Homo sapiens: one gene and its partners. The protein of the gene in region 1 purifies or fractionates together with the protein of each later gene. This does not show direct contact. Each region holds a gene or a part of one and is shown in the gene's direction. Other genes may lie near its edges. The genes, in order: UFM1, RFK, CSRP1, KIFBP, TRAP1, ZFYVE19 and MSI2.

Evidence for each region.
Region 2: the proteins of UFM1 (region 1) and RFK fractionate together in Homo sapiens (co-fractionation; one large-scale study listed by BioGRID). This does not show direct contact.
Region 3: the proteins of UFM1 (region 1) and CSRP1 fractionate together in Homo sapiens (co-fractionation; one large-scale study listed by BioGRID). This does not show direct contact.
Region 4: the proteins of UFM1 (region 1) and KIFBP fractionate together in Homo sapiens (co-fractionation; one large-scale study listed by BioGRID). This does not show direct contact.
Region 5: the proteins of UFM1 (region 1) and TRAP1 fractionate together in Homo sapiens (co-fractionation; one large-scale study listed by BioGRID). This does not show direct contact.
Region 6: the proteins of UFM1 (region 1) and ZFYVE19 fractionate together in Homo sapiens (co-fractionation; one large-scale study listed by BioGRID). This does not show direct contact.
Region 7: the proteins of UFM1 (region 1) and MSI2 fractionate together in Homo sapiens (co-fractionation; one large-scale study listed by BioGRID). This does not show direct contact.

The regions. Positions count from the first base shown.
Region 1 is NC_000013.11:38,356,351-38,359,850, forward strand, and holds part of UFM1 (ubiquitin-fold modifier 1), read left to right. Parts: intron 1-1,742; coding exon 1,743-1,782; intron 1,783-2,950; coding exon 2,951-2,983; intron 2,984-3,500. UniProt on the Homo sapiens protein: Ubiquitin-like modifier which can be covalently attached via an isopeptide bond to lysine residues of substrate proteins as a monomer or a lysine-linked polymer.
Region 2 is NC_000009.12:76,391,627-76,395,764, reverse strand, and holds the start of RFK (riboflavin kinase), read left to right. Parts: upstream 1-1,338; 5' UTR 1,339-1,593; coding exon 1,594-1,675; exon of another isoform or gene 1,676-1,896; intron 1,897-3,195; coding exon 3,196-3,347; intron 3,348-4,138. UniProt on the Homo sapiens protein: Catalyzes the phosphorylation of riboflavin (vitamin B2) to form flavin-mononucleotide (FMN), hence rate-limiting enzyme in the synthesis of FAD. Essential for TNF-induced reactive oxygen species (ROS) production.
Region 3 is NC_000001.11:201,500,624-201,504,123, reverse strand, and holds part of CSRP1 (cysteine and glycine-rich protein 1), read left to right. Parts: intron 1-3,500. UniProt on the Homo sapiens protein: Could play a role in neuronal development.
Region 4 is NC_000010.11:69,015,143-69,017,482, forward strand, and holds the end of KIFBP (KIF-binding protein), read left to right. Parts: intron 1-398; coding exon 399-1,274; 3' UTR 1,275-1,840; downstream 1,841-2,340. UniProt on the Homo sapiens protein: Activator of KIF1B plus-end-directed microtubule motor activity. Required for organization of axonal microtubules, and axonal outgrowth and maintenance during peripheral and central nervous system development.
Region 5 is NC_000016.10:3,676,025-3,679,524, reverse strand, and holds part of TRAP1 (heat shock protein 75 kDa, mitochondrial isoform 1 precursor), read left to right. Parts: exon of another isoform or gene 1-1,866; coding exon 1,867-2,027; exon of another isoform or gene 2,028-3,379; coding exon 3,380-3,489; exon of another isoform or gene 3,490-3,500.
Region 6 is NC_000015.10:40,812,837-40,815,584, forward strand, and holds the end of ZFYVE19 (abscission/NoCut checkpoint regulator), read left to right. Parts: coding exon 1-66; intron 67-501; coding exon 502-581; intron 582-876; coding exon 877-975; intron 976-1,106; coding exon 1,107-1,234; intron 1,235-1,311; coding exon 1,312-1,390; 3' UTR 1,391-2,248; downstream 2,249-2,748. UniProt on the Homo sapiens protein: Key regulator of abscission step in cytokinesis: part of the cytokinesis checkpoint, a process required to delay abscission to prevent both premature resolution of intercellular chromosome bridges and accumulation of DNA damage.
Region 7 is NC_000017.11:57,682,356-57,685,189, forward strand, and holds the end of MSI2 (RNA-binding protein Musashi homolog 2), read left to right. Parts: 3' UTR 1-2,334; downstream 2,335-2,834.

The DNA.
Region 1 (3,500 bases):
TTGAGTGTTTGATCAAATTCTTATTGAGATTACAGCCTGTGCAAAATATTTGTGATGCATTTTTAAGTTTACTTAAGTACACTTTGAAATTCTTTAAAAATTTTAAAATCTTTAAAAGGACACAAGAGTGTACCACATTGAGATTAAAATGTGTTTATTATTAATTTGTACATAATACTATAACAAATAATTGTTCTCAGGTATGTTTAAGGCCTTATTTTAAAAGTTGATTCTTCAATTTCTAATTTAAAATAAGCTTTTAGTTTTTCTCAACTATGTATATGTAATGATTATAGATGCCTAGAGTAGTGTTTCCCAGACAACTAGAACCACACACAAATTAGTACCACCAAAAAAAAAAAAAAAAAAACTTCATGAAGAACAGGGATTACTGGTCAAAAAATACGAGAAACACTTCATTTCTGTTAGGAGTATATTAAAGGCTTTTGAGAAGACCACTAGTTAAATGTGTTTTCCAAACTTGATCACAAAACTCAACTATAATATCTATAAAGTTAGTCCATAGCACAAACATGCTTAAATTTGTTGGATAAATGCATAAACTGTGAAGACATAAACACACTTTGGCAACTGCTGGTCTCTTTAAGAGATGGAATCTACCTTTTAGCTACCAATAAATTCCATACCACATTTCATTGATTTAAAAAACACATCTTTTTAAACATCTCTGAAATAGATCAGGGGAGGCTTGCTATCACTGTTGGCCAAATGGCTTTCACTTAATTGTCTAGGTAACATCATCTACACTTAATTATTATTTCCTAATGACATAATTGGACTATTGCAATCCTTGAGCTTTAAATCAGCAAATCATTACAGAGGAATGTAAGGAATACAAGCCTTGGTTGTTACCTGAAAATCTTCGGTAGGCACCTCCCATTAAACACAGAGAGCATCTGTTCAGATCTTGCAATTTCTATGGAGAAATTTTAGGAATAATCTCATCAGTTTATTTTGCATGTACTTTTTGCTGTTCAAGAGAATTATAAATGACAAAATTGATGGATAAGTCCTAAAGAGTAAACATTGATCTGGGCATAAATTGACAGTGGTTTTTCATTTTTGTAATGTATAATATAAGGTACACTTTTATAATTAATGGTGTCCTAAATACAATCAAAAGCACTGTTTATAATACAGGGTTTTTTTTTTACAGATAAAGCATATGATATAGTCCAGTTGACCCTTGAATAACGTGGGAGTTAGGGGTTCCAACCCCCTGTGCAGTTGAAAATCTGCATAAAACTTTTTTATTTCTCAAAAACTTTACTAATAGCCTACTGTTGACTGGAAGCCTTACTGATAACACAGACAGGCGATTAATATGTATTTTGTTATGTGTATTATATACTGTATTCTTACAATAACGTTAAAGAAAAAATACTAAGAAAATCATAACAGAAAGTATATTTACTATTCATTAAGTGGAAGTGGACCATGGGAAAGGTCTTAATCCTTGTCTTGTGTTGAATATACTGAGGAGAAGGAAGAGGAAGGGTTGGTCTTGCTGTCTCAGGAGTAGCGGAGGCAGAAGAAAATCTGCATATGTCATTCAAGGGTCAGCTGTACTTTCCTTGATAGTTTCACTTATTCTAAAAGATTAATCCTACTTTAGAATTATAGAATTGGTATTTGTACCCCATTCTTGCTAATTATCTTATAGTTTTGTGTGTGTGTGTGTGTGTGTATATATATATATATTTTTTTTTCCTTCTATTTAGTTTAAAGTTCCTGCTGCAACAAGTGCAATTATTACCAATGGTAAGAATTCACTATAAAATTATGTATTACCTCAAATTTATAGAAATGGTGTAAAAGGAACCAAATTAATTAAAATTAAATACAAAAAGCCCCAAGTATATGTATATCAACATAAATGATATACTTACTGGTAAACACTAAGTCAGGGTTATTGTTAATAATTAGCTCCTTTCATTTCTTTGTATATAGCTTTTGATATAGTATAGCACTTTATAATATCTTTTGTCCTTACCAGTTCATGCCAGATTATAACTGAAAATAACTTTATTTAGCAAGTTTTTTTTTTTATTAAGTAAAGTTGTTTGGTAAATGCTTTAGAATATAGAAAGTTAAGCAGGAATGTATCTTTGCTATACCTTTCCTGATAGAAAATTGTTTCTTGTAGGCTTGCAATAATGAGAATTTTATTCCGTTTTAGGTATATAATTAAAAATCTTAATATCTTGGAACACTGATAATCAATGATGATGGAATTAGTCTTGTGAGAAAATAGTGAAATAATAAGATGAGGAGTAAAGATTGCAGGGAGGGCTTAACTGTGTTTCAAGTATACAATGCAGTATTGATGAGTGCTGATGCGTTGCCCAAGTGCAGTTTGGACAGGAGATGGGCTTAATGTGCGTGATGTAACTTAGATAAGGTAGAATTTCTCACTCTAAAATATTCTGCATTCTGTCACATTGAAGTGTTTCTCTGTTGGAAAAAAGCTGGCTTACTACCTGGAAAGTTTTAGGTCATAACTTAGTAACGTGTTGAACTAAATGACTTTGTGAGCTCTCCCAGCCTTAAGATATTATGACCTAGAACAATACGAAGATGATTCATGGCATACCTAAGGGGCTTTTTAGTTTTTTGGAAGAAAGGACAAACATTATTTTTAATTCTATATGGCAAAATAGAATTAATAACCTATATTCCATAGAACTTACCAGGATCATTGCATTGACAGACGTTTTTGTCTAACCCAGCAATGTGTATGAATGCAGAATAATAGTAGATTTCAACAGATAATTTACCTGAAAGATTGTCACTCGTGTTCTTGGATTTAAAGTGTTTGGCTTATGTCTATATACACAACAGCACTATTTTGGCAAATCTCTTTCCTTGCTACTATTTAACCATTTTAGCTTTAGAAATAATGTATGTGATTTTACAACTTATTTTCTAGATGGAATAGGAATAAATCCTGCACAGACTGCTGGTGAGTATTTGAAAACTCATAGAGGAGTGGGTGGGGTTATATATGTCAATTGACACTGAATAGTTAAGCTATTCTAATTACACTTGACAGTATTTTAACATAATGGAGCTGTTTTTTAGGGATTATATACCAGTCTTTACCTGTGTGTCTGAGTAATAAGTTGTTTCATTGTGTATATTGATTGTAGATGTTTTTGGCTACAAGTAACAGAAAACCTAATAGTGGCTTAAGCATTAAGAGTATTTATTATATATAACAAAAAGTCTGTAGATAAGATTGCTTTCTAATTGGAGTATTTTTTGACCTACCTCTTAAGGTAGTTGTGAGATAGTGACTGTAAAGTGCTTCATAGCTTGGATTATTTATAGAAAGCATTCATTAAGTGCTATTATTTTTTTTAAATATAGTCATTTACATTTCAAGGGGCTGAGTCTACATTCAGATCTTCAAACTGTTAAATTTATACAGGTGATATATTGGTGTCCTGACCAGGAGACAGGGTAAAAGTAGTCTCATA
Region 2 (4,138 bases), on another chromosome or scaffold:
ATTACTATTATCGTTATTCTCATTATTCTTTGTTTAATTCCGTATAGATAAGTAACTGACCATAATTGCTTCTTTGGGTCCTTCTCTCCCTTCCCTTCCCTTTTCTTCCCTTTCACTTTCCCTTCCCCTTTCCTTTCCCTTCCCTCCCTTCCTTCTTCTTCTCTAGTTCTTTTAAGGGGTGAGGGTGTCTCACTGTGTCGCCCAGTCTGGAGTGCAGTGGCGTTATCATAGCTCAGTGCAGCCTCGACCTCCTGGGCTCAATCAATCCTCCCGCGTCGGCCTCTCAAACTACTGGGAATACAGGCGTGAGCCACCAAGCCTGGCCTAGAACATAAATTTAATATCAGGTAAATCTTATCAGAGATGCATACATGTAAGGTAGAAAGAGACTACACGGTCTGCACAGAATTTTATACAAATGTATAGAGCAAAAAAGAAAAAAATTAAACTTCTCTGGATTCCATTGATTAAAAATTTAAAAAAATAAATAAAAAACTTCTTTGTCTTCGAGACGTTAAGAGGATGCACCTTCTTATAACCTTGCACCCTGCATATCCTGTGAGTGAGCCCAGAGCTACTTCCCTAGGAGCGTGCGTATTTACAGTTCCGAGGGTACGAAGGCCTCTATCTGCATTGCAGTAGAGGGACGGCCTGTTATCGGGCTTGTGAAATTGTCAAGAAGACAGCCTGGAGGGGACAGTCACCGCCCATGTCGGTAACCTTCCACTAGTCTCTGGGGTTAACAGCGTCACAGACAGGGACTTCTCCCTTGGAGCTTACATTCGAATATATTAATAACTCCAGAACGTGGTCAGTGGTCCTGGAGGACGACCGCTTCTGGTAGGGCGGCCAGGAAAAGCCTCTGTGAAGAGGCGATCTTTGAGCTGAATTTTGGAGCTTTAATAAATACTTAAAGAGCGAACGGAACGAGCGATGCCTGACGTTCAACCCAGCGGTTGCCAAGGAGCTAAAGAGCGTCTCACTTTGGCTTCCGGATTGTTATGAACAGGAGGAAGGAGAAAAAAAAACCAGAATTGTTCGAGAATTGTGCTTTCGCGGCTCTCAGGCTGAAAACGGGGTTTCCACATTAGTTCCCATCGCCAGGGGCTGAAACGAAGCCCGGGATCCAGACATTAGGCGCCTGGGGCGGGAGCCTGCAGCGGGAGCTTGCGGCGGGAGCCGGGCGAGGCAGCGGCGGGGCGGGGCCATGATGGGGCGGGGCTACGGAAGCCGAGCGGGCTCGAGGCGTTCGGCTGAGGAAGGGAGCGCACGCCGGCGGCGCGGAGGCCGGCTCTGCGCTTCGGGCCGCCCCCTCCCCCCACCCCGCTCACACCCGGCACTTACTTCGGCTGTCTCCGCTGCCCTCCAGCGGAGACGCAGCTCCTCAGGCGCCCGGCGGTATTTGTTGGGTCGGCGGCGTCAGGGATTCGCAGTGGCCTGTGGTCGGCGTCGTCCGGCCACTGGTGCGCCCCCGCGGCAGGCAGAGCTCACGCTCCTGTCCCCCGGCTGGTCCGGGGTCTGGGCGCCGCGTCGACGGCGGCTCCGCAGGACGCGCAGACCGGGCCGCAGCCCATTCCCCGAGCGGACTGCATTATGAGGCACCTGCCTTACTTCTGCCGGGGTCAAGTGGTGCGGGGCTTCGGCCGCGGCTCCAAGCAGCTGGGCATCCCCACAGGTGAGAGCAGGGCGGCCAGAGTCCCCCGGGCCGGGTCACGTGGGGAGCGGGGAGAGACGGCAGCCGGGGACTTGGGACCGGGGCGTGGGGCCTCCGGACCGCGGGCAGAGAGCACACCCTTCCTCCTCCCGCATCCCCTTGTCTGTGGCGGAGGACCGTTGGCTCGGTTGAGGGAGCTTGTCCCTGCTTCTGGCTCCGAGCTCCGCGGGGACGGGGTTGAGGGGTGGTGAGGGCCGGAAGCCCGAGATGAATCGCAGGATTCCCCGTTCACGCCTCCTTGGCCAGCCAAGGTACAGTTGGTCAAGCATTGCGCTTGTCTTGCCCATTAGAGACGTAACGTGGGCCAGAACGGCTGAACTCGCAAGCCGGGTCTAAGGTGGTTTTGTTTTTAATTTGTAATTATGTAATGTCCAAATGATAACATAGGTAGTTGAATGAGAGTCAGCTAACCTTCTTGGTCTGTCTACATTAATTTCAATAATCGAGACCTGACTGTAATTCATCCTTAGAAATACATGCCAGAGCTGCGTCTTGACTTGTTAAGTCAGCCTTGAGCTTGTGTATTTGAAAAATAAGAAGCTTTGGCCGGGCGTGGTGGCTCACGCCTGTAATCCCAGCACTTTGGGAGGCCGAGGCGGGCGGATCATCTGAGCTCAGGAGTTCGAGATCAGCCTGGCCAACATGGTAAAACCCCGTCTCTGCTAAAAATACAAAAATTAGCTGGGCATGGTGGCGCGTGCCTGTCATCCCAGCTACTCGGGAACCTGAGGCAGGAGAATCGCTTGAACCCAGGAGACGGAGGCTGCAGTGAGGCGAGATCGTGCCACTGCCCTCCAGCCTGGGCGACAGAGTGAGACACCGTCTCAAAAAAAAAAAAAAAAGAAAGAAACTTTTCAGGTGATTCAGTACCTGGTTAGGAAAGAACAGATCTGAAAAAATCCATCTACTCTGGTACTTGTTTTTTGCATCCTACTCAAAGAGTATGGATTTTTTTGGAGAGCTTTATATACTTACCTGGTACTTTATTCATAACCTATTCACATGAATAGGAGAGGGAAATCTGAGCCGGAAAATGGAAGGATGGGATTGATACTTACAGGCAAAGTTGTAGGAGTCTTGTGAATGTAATGATTTACATTAGCCTTGCATGTGATTTTTACAAATGTTTGTTTCTTATTATTATTTTGAGACAGAATCTGGCTCTGCCACTCAGGCTGGAGTGCAGTGGTAGTGCGATCATAGCTTACTGCAGCCTCCATCTGCTGGGCTCAACTGACCCTCCTGCCTCAGCCTCTCTGGTAGCTTAGACTATAGGTGCAGGCCACCATCCCCAGCTAATTTTTTAATAGAGGTAAGATCTCACTATGTTACCCGGGCCGGTCTCAAACCCCAGAGCTCAACATGAGCCTCCTGCCTTGGCCTCTCAAAGTCCTAGAATTACAGACATGAGCCACTGCACTCGGCTACAGGCATTTAATACGAAATTTGTAAGACTCAAAATATTTTCTTCTGTTGTTTAGCTAATTTTCCTGAGCAAGTGGTAGATAATCTTCCAGCTGATATATCCACTGGTATTTACTATGGTTGGGCCAGTGTTGGAAGTGGAGATGTCCATAAGATGGTGGTGAGCATAGGATGGAACCCATATTACAAGAATACGAAGAAGTCTATGGTAAGCATTATATTTTGCTCTGTAACCGAAAATGGTATGATGACTTAGAATAATATATTACAGTATTCGTTACAGAAATAGCTTATCAGTGGTAATCACAACGTAGTTCAAATACTGGAATTTTGGGCAATCTCTGTCTTTTAATTGGAGAGTTTAATTCATTTACATTTAAAGTAATTTCTGATAAGGAGGGACATCTACTGTTTTGCTATTTGTTTTTTATATGCCTTATAACTTTTATGTCCCTCATTTCCTCTATTACTGCCTTTTGTGGTAGTGTGCTTTTTGTTTTGTTTTGTTTTGTAGTGACATTTTAATTCCTTTCTCATTGCTTTCTGTGTATTTCTATAGATACTGTCTTTGTGGTTACCATGGGGTTTATATTTAACATCCTGAAATTCTAAAAGTTTAATTTGAGTTTATACCAACTTAATTTCAATAGCATACAGAACTCAGAAATTGCATCTTTTTTTTTTTTTTTAAAGATGGGGTCTCACTATGTTGCCCAGACTGAAGTGCAGTAGCTGTTCACAGGCCAGGTTGTAGCACACTGTAGCTTCAAACTCATGGGCTCAAGTAATCCTCCTCCAGCCTCCAGAGAGCTGGGACTATAGGTACATGCCACTGCCTGCATCTGGCTCAGATTACATCCTTATACATTGTGGTACCCAATAACAAAGATTAATAATTGGTTTTTTTATGCATTTATTTTTTAAATTATGTAGAAAATAAAGAGTGGAGTTACAAACCAAAATTATAATACTGACTTTGATAATTGCTGTCTGTGAAAG
Region 3 (3,500 bases), on another chromosome or scaffold:
ACATTTCCTTTTTCCAGATCAACTCACTAAGGAAATATCTGCCATTTGTGAAACACATCAGCTTTACAAGGTGCTTTACAGTGGCTTATAAACTATTTAAGGAAGATATCTTTCACTTGGATGGATCAGGGTTAGAACTCCTGACCTCCGGGTTTTCAGTCTGTTGCATGGCCAGGTAGGAGCAGAGGGGACCCCTGAGAGTTAGTTCCCAGCCACTAATGGATATGCTTTCACCAGCTCTGCATGTTTGAGTTTCAGAGCCAGGTTTGCAGAAAGAAAACAAGCCTGGAAAAGAGCGTGCTTGAGAAAGAGAGAGCTAGCAAAACTTGAGGGGAGGGCAGAGAAGGTGAGGTGGAGGGGTCCTGGGTTCCGACTGCTGTTTCTAGTTGTCAAGAATTTATATGGTAATGACGTGCCTGTACTACGCAGCTACCCAGGAATGTGTCTGACGCCAGCACTGAGTAATTCCCATGTATGGTAAAGTGTGTAAATACGGGGGCAGCTAGCATTTCCAGACTCTGGTATTTCCAGTGCTTCCCCAGGGCCAGAAGGCAGCGTCTGAGTCTTCAGCGGTGACAACAGGGGAAGAAATGGAAGGTTAGCAGCTGGAGCTCAGCCCCAGCTAGGCAGCCAGCACCCCCTACCCCCGACTGTGTGCCTGGCTTTCTTTATGCAGGGGTGGCGTGTGTTGGTGCTTCCTGGGATGTCAGCTGCAAACGACCTGTGTTTTTAAGGCCTAAGTGCTAATGTGTTTTAACTTGTAAAAAATTAATCAAAGAAAAATCATTCAGACCATTTTGTTCAGCATGGAATAACCAACATCATTACAGATCTGGATAAAAGCAAGGAAACCCCATCTGTTAATTTGTCTATGAGGCTTTATTATAATACAGGATTTCCTGTAGAAGTTTTGAAATACTACAAAGAAGTCATCGACCTCCATTTCTACCTGTGTTGACCTTCAGACTTCTTTTTTTTGAGACAGAGTTTCGCTTTTGTCCCCCAGGCTGGAGTGCAGTGGCACGATCTTGGCTCACTGCAACCTCTGCCTCCGGGTTCAAGCAATTCTCCTGCCTCAGCCTCCCAAGTAGCTGGGATTACAGGTGTGCACCATCACACTCAGCTAATTTTTTTTTTTTTTTTGTATATTTAGTAGAGATGGGGTTTCACGCTGTTGGCCAGGCTGGTCTCAAACTCCTGACCTTAAATGATCCACCCACCTCAGCCTCCCCAAGTGCTAGGATTATAGGAATGAGCCACTGCGCCCTGCAAACTTCTGAACTCCAAGAGTAGGGAGCTCTGCTCTAGAAGGCACTGGGGGCAAGTGGGGAAAGGGAGAGACATATACCGCCCTTGTCAGCTCACAGTCTCACAAGGGCCACTGGACATGGATTTGAAAAGAGAAAGCTCATTCAATAGAGAGAAGGATTCCTGACCTAGAATGACAGTCAAGTTCTGGAGGCCCATGGGGCCTGGATTGATGGTAGCTCAGTGATGCTGGTTACCTTTTCAGAGAGGCGGGTCATGTGCACGGTTCTGAAGGAAACATGAGGTGGGACATGGAAAGCTGAGGCCAAGCCTGCCCCATCTCCATGGCAGCCATTCTCCCCCTACCCGTGACCCTGAGCTTCAGGAGAGGCTGATTTCCTGAGCTCTCAGGTGTCACTTCTAAGACTTGGCTCTGAGCCCTGACCAGCCCAGCCCCCTCCTCTCTCTGCCCTCAGCTGCTCTCTGGACACTGGGGCGTGGAGGCAAAAGCCGAGCTGCAGATTGGAAGGGATGCCAGCCCTCCTGTCCACCTGGCAGATACCAAGCAGCTCAGCTAATGCGAGGGAGCTAGATAAACATCTGACAGGTTTCTACTGGAGCAAGTGGATGGGGACTTTAACCCTGTGCCGTCAGTCACTCTTTGGCCCTAGGGAATAAATGATTTTGGAATGGGAGAGATGGGATTTTTCCACTGTAGAAATAAAGATATGGGATGGTTTTGAAGGGTTTGATAAGAAGGGGCTTGCCTTCAGACACTGGTGGCTGGCAGTTAGGGATTTTACATCTCTGCGATGGTTCCTTCAACCTGTCACCTGAGCCAGACTTTATTTATTTATTTATTTATTTATTTATTTATTTATTTTGAGACTGAGTATTGCTTTATTGCCCAGGCTGGAGTGCAGTGGCAAGATCGCTGCTCACTGCAACCTCCATCTCCTGTTTCAAGCAATTCTCATGCCTCAGCCTCCGGAGTAGCTGGGATTACAGGTGCCCGCCACCATACCCGGCTAATTTTTGTATTTTTATTAAAGATGGGGTTTCACTACATTGGCCAGGCCGGTCTCGAACTCCTGACCTCAAGTGATCCGCCTGCCTCAGCCTCCCAAAGTGCAAGGATTACAGGCGTGAGCCACCACACCCAGCCGAGCCTGACTTTCATGAGATTTGGGGTGACTGAGAGTCTGTGACCTTTTTCTTCTCCTTTTGCTGCTGCTGTAAGAGCTGCCACCTTGGCTTTCTTGTCTCAAGGCTGAGGATCTGGGTACAGTCCTAACTGGGGATCTGGGTACAGTCCTAATGGGACAGCCAGGCTAGGAAGATGCAGCAGCAGACACAGCAGGCTTCTAGCCGCCAGCCGTTTCAGGAAAACAGCTGACCAGGTGTTTCCAGCCATTCAGTAGAAAATTCAAGCTCTGTTCTCTGTTGAGATGGTCAACAGAGTGAAATGGGACATCACAGACAGCTGGGGGGAGCTAAACCCCAAAGAAGGGCAAGTAACTTGTCCCAGACTCATTCGCTGGGCTAGCAGATGAATCAGGAGTTCCTGGCCCTATTTGGCATGGTACTTCTTAAGCCTCGCTCCTTCCATATGTGGACTAGCTACATGTGGATGGCTGGCCCACATCTAGCAGTGTGGAGTCGACGTATGACTGGTCCAGTCGTGTGAGTGGTAGTCAGAGGGGCGGGCACTTACAGTGTGCTGGCCATCACTTCCATACCTCCTCATTTAATCCTTACAGCTGAATTTTAGGGAGTCCATATACGGTCCATTTTAGAGACAAGCAAATTGACACTCAGAAAGGAAAGTAACTTGCCCAAGATCATTCAGCTAGGAAGGGGTAAATCCATATTGATCGAATCCCAGCTCTTGTTTTCCTAACCATTGACCTGTACAGCCTGAACTCTGACCTTGGGAACTTCTCTTGTCCCAGCCTTCTGCAGGGCCTCTGTGCCGGAGAGCTGGGAAGGCAATTAAGAAGGAGCCAAGTGTCCCTCTAAGGCACTCCATGAACTCTGAGAAACAGGTTTCCTTTTAAGGCAATTCGGCCTCCCTACAGGCAGAATTTGGCTGTTGGAGAGAAGGGCAGAAAGGGAGGAGGTGGAGTGAAGACTGAGCCCTGCCTGTTGCCAGGGTTCCCTCCAGCTGAGCCTCTTCCCCACAGGCAGGGTCACCTGGAGGGGTCCTCTTGTGGGCAGAGGGGGACAGGACCTCATCCACAGGCACTGCCTGA
Region 4 (2,340 bases), on another chromosome or scaffold:
TCAACTCCTGACCTCGTGATCTGTCCGCCTTGGCCTCCCAAAGTGCTGGGAGTAATGTATCACATATATATAATGTTTCACAATTCTCAAAGTACTTTTACATGTAGCATTTATCTTATTGGAAGGAGTAACTGTAAATAAATTTCAGTTCCTCAGAATAAATGATATGTAAGCAGCTTGTCTATTTAAATACTTTTTTTTCCACATTTCTTGAGTTTTTAATATAATCGGAAGAAAGAAAGAAGTTTTCAAAGGTGTTTAAGATTATGATACCCTTCTAAACCAGGCTGGAAAGTAAGAGACTTCTCTTCTAAAAAACTCTGAAGTTTGCTTTAATATTATTTAACAGCAGGAGGTGAGTGTCCTACTTAACCATAATTTATTTTTTTTTCCTTCAGGACAACATAGGAGAGCTTGATCTTGATAAACAGTCTGAACTTAGAGCTTTAAGGAAAAAAGAACTAGATGAGGAGGAAAGCATTCGGAAAAAAGCTGTGCAGTTTGGAACCGGTGAACTGTGTGATGCCATCTCTGCAGTAGAAGAGAAAGTGAGCTACTTGAGACCTTTAGATTTTGAAGAAGCCAGAGAACTTTTCTTATTGGGTCAGCACTATGTCTTTGAGGCAAAAGAGTTCTTTCAGATTGATGGTTATGTCACTGACCATATTGAAGTTGTCCAAGACCACAGTGCTCTGTTTAAGGTGCTTGCATTCTTTGAAACTGACATGGAGAGACGGTGCAAGATGCATAAACGCAGAATAGCCATGCTAGAGCCCCTAACTGTAGACCTGAATCCACAGTATTATCTGTTGGTCAACAGACAGATCCAGTTTGAAATTGCACATGCTTACTATGATATGATGGATTTGAAGGTTGCCATTGCTGACAGGCTAAGGGATCCTGATTCACACATTGTAAAAAAAATAAATAATCTTAATAAGTCAGCACTGAAGTACTACCAGCTCTTCTTAGACTCCCTGAGAGACCCAAATAAAGTATTCCCTGAGCATATAGGGGAAGATGTTCTTCGCCCTGCCATGTTAGCTAAGTTTCGAGTTGCCCGTCTCTATGGCAAAATCATTACTGCAGATCCCAAGAAAGAGCTGGAAAATTTGGCAACATCATTGGAACATTACAAATTTATTGTTGATTACTGTGAAAAGCATCCTGAGGCCGCCCAGGAAATAGAAGTTGAGCTAGAACTTAGTAAAGAGATGGTTAGTCTTCTCCCAACAAAAATGGAGAGATTCAGAACCAAGATGGCCCTGACTTAATCCTTGTTTTTAAAGAAAGGAAATGTGCAATATTGAAGTGATCTTTTTCCCTAGTCAGACAGGCCCAATTCCATTGTGATGTTTACCTTTATAGCCAGGTGAGTGCAGTTTGAACTTGAGATACAGTCAACTGAGTGTTTGCTAGGATCCTAAGGAACATAAAGTTAATTAAAAACTTACACCTAATTATGTAAATTGCCTTGTTAAAGACATGTGATTTGTATTTTAGATGCTTGTTTCCTATTAAAATACAGACATTTCTACCCTCAGTTTCTAAATGTAGACTATTTGTTGGCTAGTACTTGATAGATTCCTTGTAAGAAAAAATGCTGGGTAATGTACCTGGTAACAAGCCTGTTAATATATTAAGATTGAAAAAGTAACTTCTATAGTTACTCCTTCTAAAATATTTGACTTCCTAAATTCCCCCCACCCAAAATCTTTCCCTTTTGAAAATACTAAAAACTAAGTTATGTTATTATAAAGTGTAAAATGGTTTGTCTTAATTATAGGAGAAAAAGGCCTTGTTAGAAATAAAATAAACTGACTTATTTCACTAATGAAAACTTCTGTTTCCTTTTTGTTTTCTTGTGAGCACTGATACCTCAATACATTGATACCTCAATACCTTTGAGGTATTTTTTGATACCTCAAAGATACTAGCTTATTTGAAGCTAGAGAAGAATATTTCTTCAATAACATTGCACAGTTAGAAAACATTAAAATATCATTCATGGGCCAGGCACCGTGTCTCATGCCTGTAATCCCGGCACTTTGGGAGGCTGAGGCAGGCGGATCACAAGGTCAGGAGATCGAGACCATCCTGGCTAACACGGTGAAACCCCGTCTCTACTAAAAATACAAAAAATTAGCCGGGCGTGGCCGCGTGCGCCTGTAGTCCCAGCTACTTGGGAGGCTGAGGCAGGAGAATGGCGTGAACCCAGGAGGCAGAGCTTGCAGTGAGCCGAGATTGTGGCACTGCACTCCAGCCTGGGTGACAGAGCGAGACTCTGTCTCAAAAAAAAAATATCATTCATGGCTGAGTGTGGTGGCTTATGCCTGTAAT
Region 5 (3,500 bases), on another chromosome or scaffold:
TTGGTTTCAGGACCCCCCTTGGATAGCAAAGTCTGCAGATGCTCCAGTCCCGGATTAAATTGGTGCCGTATATTGTAGACACATCTTCTTGTATGCTTTAGATGGTCTCTAGGTTAGTTATAATACCTGATAGAATGTAAATGCTAGATATAGATATAACATAGTTATGTTTTTTATACTACTTTTTATCATTGTGTTGTTTTTTATTTTTTTTCTGAGTATTTTCGATCCTTGGCTGGTTGAATCTGCAAATGTGGAACCCGTAGATAGGAGGACCAACTGTATTGGCTCACTGCAACCTCTGCCTCCCGGTTCAAGCAACTCTCCTGCCTCAGCCTCCCAAGTAGCTGGGATTACAGGCACGAGCCACCACGCCTGGCCAATTTTTTGTATCTTTAGTAGAGACGGGGTTTCACCATGTTGGCCGGGCTATCCTCCAGCCTCAGCCTCCTGAGGCGTGACTACAGGTGCACGTCACTATGCCCAGACCCACAGAGCAGTTCTGACCAGAACCATCAAACCCACAGACGCCGCATCCCAAGCCCGTTCTCATCACGGCGCTGTGTGAGAGGGGACTGATCCCTCTGACCCTCTCTGCGTCAAGCCCACAAGGCTCAGGGAATCGACTTTGCAGAAAAGTGCTGTGAGGCAGAGCAACACATTTGGACTCAGACCAACAGCCTGGGAACCTCCAGCGGTCGCCCTTTTCCAGCTCTGGGCAAAGCACTTACTTCAGTCTCCTCATCTGTAAGATGAAAACACTAGGTCGGGTGCGGTGGCTCACGCCTGTAACCCCAGTACTTTGGGAGGCCGAGGCAGGTGGATCACGAGGTCAGGAGATGGAGACCATCCTGGCTAACACGGTGAAACCCCGTCTCTACTAAAAATACAAAAATTAGCTGGGCGTGGTGGTGGTACCTGTCATCCCAGCTACTCGGGAGGCTGAGGCGGGAGAATCACTTGAACCCGGGAGGCAGAGGTTGCAGTGAGCTGAGATCACGCCACCGCGCTCCAGCCTGCGCGACAGAGCGACACTCCATCTCAAAAACAACAACAACAACAACAACAAACAAAAAACCCACCCTAACTGTGACTTGACCCCCACGTTACGTCTTTTGTTGTATTTCTCTCGAGGTTGGTCTGCTGTCCTGTGTAGCGGCCACCAGCTGCATGTGGCAGTTTAAATGTAAATGCATTCAAATTAAATAAAAGGGGACATTGTGCTCCTCAGCTGCACAGGCCACATTGCAGGTGCTCGGCAGGCTGTCGCATTGCACCTGGCAGAACGTTCCTGTTGTTGGAGAAAGTTCCATCGGACAACGTGGGCCAGGGCAGTGGGCGTGTGTATTTTACTTGACTTTGGCCTTAGGACCTTTGGCAGTATTATAGTAGAAAAATGAAGTGCTGTGCGGTGCTTACAGACGCATGCGCGTGATTTCTACTCTTTTTCCCACAAAGTGTAGAGTCCAGGAGACTTGAATATGGAAGCCAGTTTGGAGCCTCTCCTCACTCCTGGCCTTCCTATGGAAGGAGCTTATTCAAGGGAAAGAGCTTATTCAAGCTGCTCTTTCCCCACCCCCAGGTGTGACCCACAGGCCTCCACCTGTCTGGGACAGGCAGGACTGTGAGCTTTGGGAATCAAATGGAAAACACACTTGTCCCACTGCTGCCAGCTGGTTGTCCTAGGGCTAATGTGTCACCTCTCTGTGACTTAGCTCTTCACGTGTAGAATGGGGTGGAAAAGTACTCGGTGTGGCTGTTTTCAGGATGAAGGGGTCTTAGCGGTGCTCGCAGAAGAGCCACGGTGTTGGGAGTGTCTGCTCTCTGGAGGGGAGGCTGCCTCACTAACTGGCCTCTGCCCCACAGGCCTTCCTGGATGCTCTGCAGAACCAGGCTGAGGCCAGCAGCAAGATCATCGGCCAGTTTGGAGTGGGTTTCTACTCAGCTTTCATGGTGGCTGACAGAGTGGAGGTCTATTCCCGCTCGGCAGCCCCGGGGAGCCTGGGTTACCAGTGGCTTTCAGATGGGTGAGTGACGAATGTCGCCTGACAGGCAGCTCAAAGCTGAGCTGGAGCCCTTAGCATGGAGTTTGGAAAGGGATGGACTCAGAAAACGTACACAGGCATTTTCTGGGCTTTTTATATGAAATCTGACTCTCCCATTTTGGGGAGTTAGTGACTTTTGTGGCTCCAGGTGGCCTATGGCACCTGTCTGGTCCCATGTGGTTGGTCACCACCACTGCGCTCGGGAAGGCAGGTCCGGCCCGCGCTGAGCTCCTTTCTCAGTGGCTGAGCTGCAGGACTGGCCTGTCGCCTGGTGGACACTATGCAGCCTCCTGTGACCGACCTTCTGCAAGAGCTCATTCTGCTTCCTCCCAGCCCTGGCATTTCCTGGCTTTGTCTCCCCAGCCCACTTCTGCCTCTATAGGGTGAGGAGCCTGCTGGGGGCTTTTTTTTTTTTTTTTTCCTTTGGGACGGAGTTTTACTCTTGTTGCCTAGGCTGGAGTGCAATGGCACAATCTTGGCTCACTGCCACCTCCGCCTCCCAGGTTCAAGCAATTGGCCTGCCTCAGCCTCCTGAGTAGCTGGGACTACAGGCGCATGCCACCACGCCCAGCTAATTTTGTATTTTTAGTAGAGACAGGGTTTCTCCATGTTGGTCAGACTGGTCTCGAACCCCGACCTCAGGTGATCTGCCCGTCTTGGCCTCCCAAAGTGCTGGGATTATAGACGTGAGCCACCACGCCTGGCTCCGAGGGCTTTTTAGCAGGTGAGCCGCTTCCAGCCAGCCGAGGCGTCCTCCCTCCGTGATGCCATTTCTGCTCCACAGTGTGTGCACTGTGCTCAGCTTGACTCCCCACTCTCCCAAAACTAACATTCCTGTTTAATTCCATGGGAGCGGGGCTCAGAGTAAACTTAGGCCAAGGCATCAACATGGCCCTGCCGGGGGATTCCCCCCTCCTGTGCTTCGGAGATGGTTTTCTGCTCTTCTTAGGGGGCGCCTGTCCCCCTGGCCTTTGTTTTTGCCCCTGGGCATCTGGCACCCGATTTGGAGCTGGGCCAGTCCCCCACAGTGCCCCAGGCCTGCTTTTGGGGTAAGCCCAGAAGCTTCTTCGAAGCCCAGGGTCGGTGGAGGACCCCCGCCCCCCCGCCCCCCGCCCGAGGGAACCAGGAGAACTCTGCCGCCTGCGACAGGCTCATCGTTCCTGATGGGCATGTGATGGCCTGAGTGGTGCGCTGGGGTCAGAAATGGGGCATTTGAGGTGTGTTGTGTGTTGTTTGGGCTCTGCCTATGAAACCCTCGGGAACCGCTGGAGTCCCATGCAGGGTATGTCCCAGTGTCACATCCACCTGGCTTTTCCTTTCTTTGCCTGCCTTAGTTCTGGAGTGTTTGAAATCGCCGAAGCTTCGGGAGTTAGAACCGGGACAAAAATCATCATCCACCTGAAATCCGACTGCAAGGAGTTTTCCAGCGAGGCCCGGGTGCGAGGTGAGCGGGAG
Region 6 (2,748 bases), on another chromosome or scaffold:
GGCAGGAACGGATTCTGGCCCTGGCCAAGCGACTAGCCATGCTGCGGGGACAGGACCCCGAGAGAGGTGAAGGCTGGGGAGCAGCTGCTCACTGGTATCCCTTGGTCAAGGCCTCCCTGGCAGGGCTGAGTCAGGTGCTGGGGGTATTTGCGCCCAGAGATCTACTGAGCCCAGCCCAGAGCCACAAGGAAGGTGGTAGAGCAAAGCAGTGGGTGAGGAGTCAGGGGCAGCCATGAGGGCAGGGGACCTTCAGTCCATTCAGGGGCTGAGGCTTTCGCTCCAGCCCCCAACCTAGCCCTCAGGCCTGCTTCAGTGATGGCCCAGCCCTGCAGGGCTGGGGCAGGCAGGGACAGGTCATCAGGGTGGCTGAAGAGGCTTCTCAGCTCTGGAATAAGTGCCCCTGGGAACCGAACCAGTTCTGGGAGGCAGGAGGGCAGCCACTCATGTGAAATCTCTCACTCTCACTCCCCCATCCCCTGTTCCCATGTCTCCCTCTTCAAGTGACCCTCCAGGACTATCGCCTCCCAGACAGTGATGACGACGAGGATGAGGAGACAGCCATCCAAAGAGTCCTGCAGCAGGTGGGCCTGGATTACCCACCTGCCACCCCTTGTCCCGTCTCCGCCTCATTGCCCCACCTCTACTCTGGGGCTGGGTGGACAGTAACTGTGAAGCTCCTGTTCTCTTTGGGCCCCCTCCTGTGACCCAGACCCAGACCTGCCCACTGGTCCCTGGAGATAGGGAATCAGCAGCCACAGGCCACAAGTAAAGAAAAAGATGAGTTTGAGAAGCTAAGTCCACAGTGCACAGAAATACTGGGAGATGGAGGGCCTGGGCCTGAAGCAGGGGAGTAGTACATCTTCACCCTGTCCGCAGCTCACTGAAGAAGCTTCCCTGGATGAGGCAAGTGGCTTTAACATCCCTGCAGAGCAGGCTTCTCGACCCTGGACGCAACCCCGCGGGGCAGAGCCTGAGGTGAGAAAAGCCCCAGATGCAGACCCCCAGGCTCCCCCCAGCCTTGCTTCCTGCCTGGCTGACTGCTCCTGCAGCAGCTCACATACCCCACTGGGTACCTTACTTCCTCCATTCCTCTCTGATCCCTGAAGGCCCAGGATGTGGACCCCAGGCCTGAGGCTGAGGAAGAGGAGCTCCCCTGGTGCTGCATCTGCAATGAGGATGCCACCCTACGCTGCGCTGGCTGCGATGGGGACCTCTTCTGTGCCCGCTGCTTCCGGTGGGTGCAGGTGGAATGTTCTGTGCGAGAGCTCAAGGGCTGCCTGGATCCCTGACTTGTATCCCTTTGTTCCACAGAGAGGGCCATGATGCCTTTGAGCTTAAAGAGCACCAGACATCTGCCTACTCTCCTCCACGTGCAGGCCAAGAGCACTGAAGACACCCTGGTCCTCCCGGAAGGGCAGTCCCACAGGCAGCGGCACCCATTTCTGGGCCCAGCCACAGGACGTCCGATGGGAGAGCTTGTCTGGCTCTACTGATGATGGATAGGCCCCTTCCTGAGCCTTGGTGTCCCTGGAATGAGGAAAGATTCTCCATTCGAGAGAATGACTGGGAGGGAAGAAGTCGGGGCCCTCCTATTAGAAGCCCAGACTGGAAGTGAGAGGCATGATGGGGAGAGACCAGACTGAATCTACGGGTGAGCCCTGTAACCTGGCTCTAGGGCACAGGCCCCTCCCCTGGCACTTAGTGGGTCTAATAAAGTATGTTGATTCATTGGGCCCAGCATCTCATTTCTACAACCCTATGAGCCTGGGCCCTGTGAGAGGTGGCAGGAACAGAGCAGGCTGTAAGCACAGTTGTGGGGAATGGGGGAAAAGGTTGAGCCATCCTATGAACTTCTCCAGGCAGGAACAGCCCTACCCATCCTGGTGGCCTCATACGAAGTAAACATGTATTCATTCAACTCAACTGTGCTCCAGCTCTGGGCAGCCCCACTTAGCCACCAGTCCCCACCATCTTGGATTTCTCAGCCTCTCTACTACTCACACAATGCACGCAGGAACAATGCACACACACCCTGCTTCCTGCCTTACTGGCAAAGGACCCCAGCTCCTAGGGCTCCTGTCCCAACCTGCCTGCCATTCAGTCTCAGTATCTCTCTTCCAGTAATGCGCCCTAACCGGACCCCTGACCTCTCGGCATGTACCCTTTACATGCCTCTGCATTGCCTCTGCTGTTTCTCTTCCTGCCCCTGGCTGGAACCAACTATAAAGAGCCCTCGGGCTGAGGTCTACCTCCTGCATCACTTTTGGTTGGAAGAGCCTTTTCTGAGGCTCTCAGATCCAGCTAGGTTTTTCCTGTTACTTCCTCTCTGGGATTTGAAACTAGTCTTTGCCATTGGCGTCCCTCTTGTTGGTTATGCCAGTAGGCTGTGTACCTTAGGCAGATAATGTCTGCTTGGCCCCGAGGCCTTGCTAGATTGTGATCTCTCTGAAGTGGAGCTGTGACTTTCGTCTTTGAATTCTTGAGTCCTTTGGATGGATGGATGGATGAGGTGTGTGGGCACAGCCAAGTGACTTAGGTTGTGGCCTTCCTGTGTATCACTTCATTCTCTCCTCCCCTGTCCCTCAGCACAGATATGTTCCACACTCCATTGAGCTGGGGCTCCTAAAGGTTTTATCCACTTGGCTGCCAAGGAAGGCATTGGACAACAGCCAGCTTTCTCCCAGAGAGCCCAGCTGACAGAAACTAGCTGTGACCACACAGACAGTAGGAGTATGCAAATGTCCCTCC
Region 7 (2,834 bases), on another chromosome or scaffold:
CCTTAAATGCTAATGCTAGATATGCAAAACTGGATTTTTTTAATTTATTTTTTAAAAGAGGGAGGCATGGTATATTAAAATGATTTTACTAAGAGAAAAAATATTTTTTTAAGAATGCTCAGAAGAAATTGATAATCTGTGTGAATATGTTTTAGATGTTTATATACCTTTTGAAGAGACCCAGTAGCCCATAGCACAAATCTTGTGGAAATCCGATATGTTTTAATGTGGCTACCTAGGTTTAAGGTTCACGTTAGTCCCCCCATTCCATCTAGAAGTCCATTTTGAAAGATTTTTGTAAATTCTTTTAACACTGATGTTTCAGCCTCGTCTTTGTTTCAGTTAAGCTCAATGGCGAACATGGGAACCACCTTTCGCCTTCCCTGGGGGAGAAACCCTCTTGGCTGATGGCTTTTCCCCGGAATTATCAAACAGCCACCGGGTGACTTTCTGGCTTCCAGATCCATCTGCCTGAGACCCCCGAACTCCTCTCCTCCCAAGCAGAGGCGAGTGAGTGGCATTAGCTCCCGGACCCATTCCCGGTCCTAGCTGGGCATGGGGCTGACGGAGATGACCAAGCCTTGGTCTGCTCTCTAGCAGCTTCCACAGACTTGGCTCGTGGCCTTCCTTATATCCACTGGGAACAAACAGCCTCGCGCTCTATACCAAACAGCCTCGCGCTCTATCCCAGTCGCCCATTAGCTTGATTCAAACAAAGCCCCAGCAGGCCTTTGCGTTTTTATCCTTCATAACCTTCATCTTAATTTGAACTTGTAGCTTGGACTTTAAGGTAGCATGGCTCTATTGCTGTCAATTTACTGTTTCACTGCACAGCAATCACAGCCAGTGAATGTTACACACATCTTGCTAGACTAGTATAAAAATCATTGGGTAATTGTTGGTTCTAATGACCTGAAAGGTGTTCAGTTTTTGTTCTTGGTTTTGTTTTGTTTTTGATTTCTTGGGGGTGGGTTTTGCTTGTTGTTCCTTTTCATTTGGGGGTTTTTGGGGAAAAAATTTATTTTTGGTTCCAAATAGAAAAACAAAACCTATTTTGATCTTTAGTGCAAACGAGGGCTAGGGACTTAGCCTCCTCCACCACCTCCACACTGCTTCATTCTGCCATTCACTCACTGCAGCATATTCAAGAATAAAGCAATATCGTTTACTACATTTTTTATTGAAGGTCAGCCATGCTTTCTGTATTATATTGCATATGAAATTGTTTACAAAAGAAACACTAACTCATACTTCTCTTTATTGGTTGCAAGTGGCACGCAGGAACAGAGGGAGAGTGGGGGGCTGGTGGGGGAGGGGAGATTTTTTTTTTTTTTTCTTGAATGTGCTTCGCAAGCCAGGCTATCTTCCAAGGAAGGCAGACAGTGGGAGAGCAGAGGGACTGACTGCAGGCAAGCACATTGAAGAAAGACACTGGCGGGTTTCCCCACCCTCACCCCAAAGCAGAAAACTAGCAGACGTCAGCTCAGCCCCGTCCTGGGCACAGACACTACACAAGGAGACGCTGGAAGTTAAGCAATACTTTAATACTGTAATATGTTTGTTTTCTTTTTCTTTCTTTTTTTTCTACCAAAAAAAAGTAAGTAAACTAAAACACAAAAACATATAAATAAAATCCATCCCTCTTGTCGGGGACCTGCAGGGGGGCAACCTTAATCCAAACACCTGGCTATCAAATAATCAGAATGTATTGTCTCAGACAGGATTTCAGTTCCGGGAGGCAGGGGCATGATGGGGGAGGGGGCCGGAGGCTGAGAGACAAAAGTTCCAGAGCCTCCCTCGAAGGTTCTCTACTACTGTATTCTGTACATAATGTACCATCCCATGTGGAATCTGTGAGTGTCCTCTTAAGTAGCGTGGGCTAGCCAATCTGCCGTTCATGGTGTATTGTAAACTCCGAATTCCATATGTAATAGGATGCAAGTCTAAGCGTTTCATGTGGACATAAATGTATCTAAATAAAACTTTCCCTAGCACTGTGGCTGACCTCACCCTTACTTTTATACTTTAGTATGAAACTGATGAGAACTTTGGTAGTGAGTATTTTTTTTATATATATACATATATATGTACTATCTATATATATATCTCAAGCATCTTTCAGGTCTTTGTGTGTGGCTTTCTTAAAGCCCTGTTGTAAAAAATTACTATGTGGATGGCAGTCTCTCACATCACAGATGTGGAAAGTATAATTTTATATTTGTATTTTCAAATAAATAAGTTTGTGAAAGGTTTCCATCCTCTACTGTGGTCCAGAAATCAATGTGTTTGTCTGACAAAAAAAAAAATAAAATAAAATAAACTGTTTTGAACAGAGTTGTTTGGTGTTCTTTCACTTGCAGAGGAGGTCTGGGGTCTGGGAGAGCTGTTGTTTTGCTTGGGCGGGAGAGGATATCATCAAATCGCACCTGCCACCCTCACCCCTCAGCATGAATGCTGGCCGTGGGCCTCCAGCAGCGAAGAAGTCCCTGCCTTGTCCCCAGGGAGCTTGTGGCACCATTTTTATGAAGTGGCAAGAGAGCACTAAGATGGAAGAGCAGACGGGAGAGGGGTGTAGATTAACAGCAGAAGGTACACAGAACCCATGAGTGGACAGGGAATAAACCCCAAAGGTCCTGCGGATCAGAGGACCCAGATGGTGGAAGGAGCTAAGGGGCCCTCCCGGGTGCTGCCCTCAGTTATCAACAGTGCTGGGAGAAGGCGCCAAACCGCATTCCACGACCCCTGAGTAGGGGTCTGAATAGGTATCAGACCTCTGCCCTCAAGGAGTTTTAAGTTTTGCCTACTGGAAATCATTACAATCACAAAACTAAAGA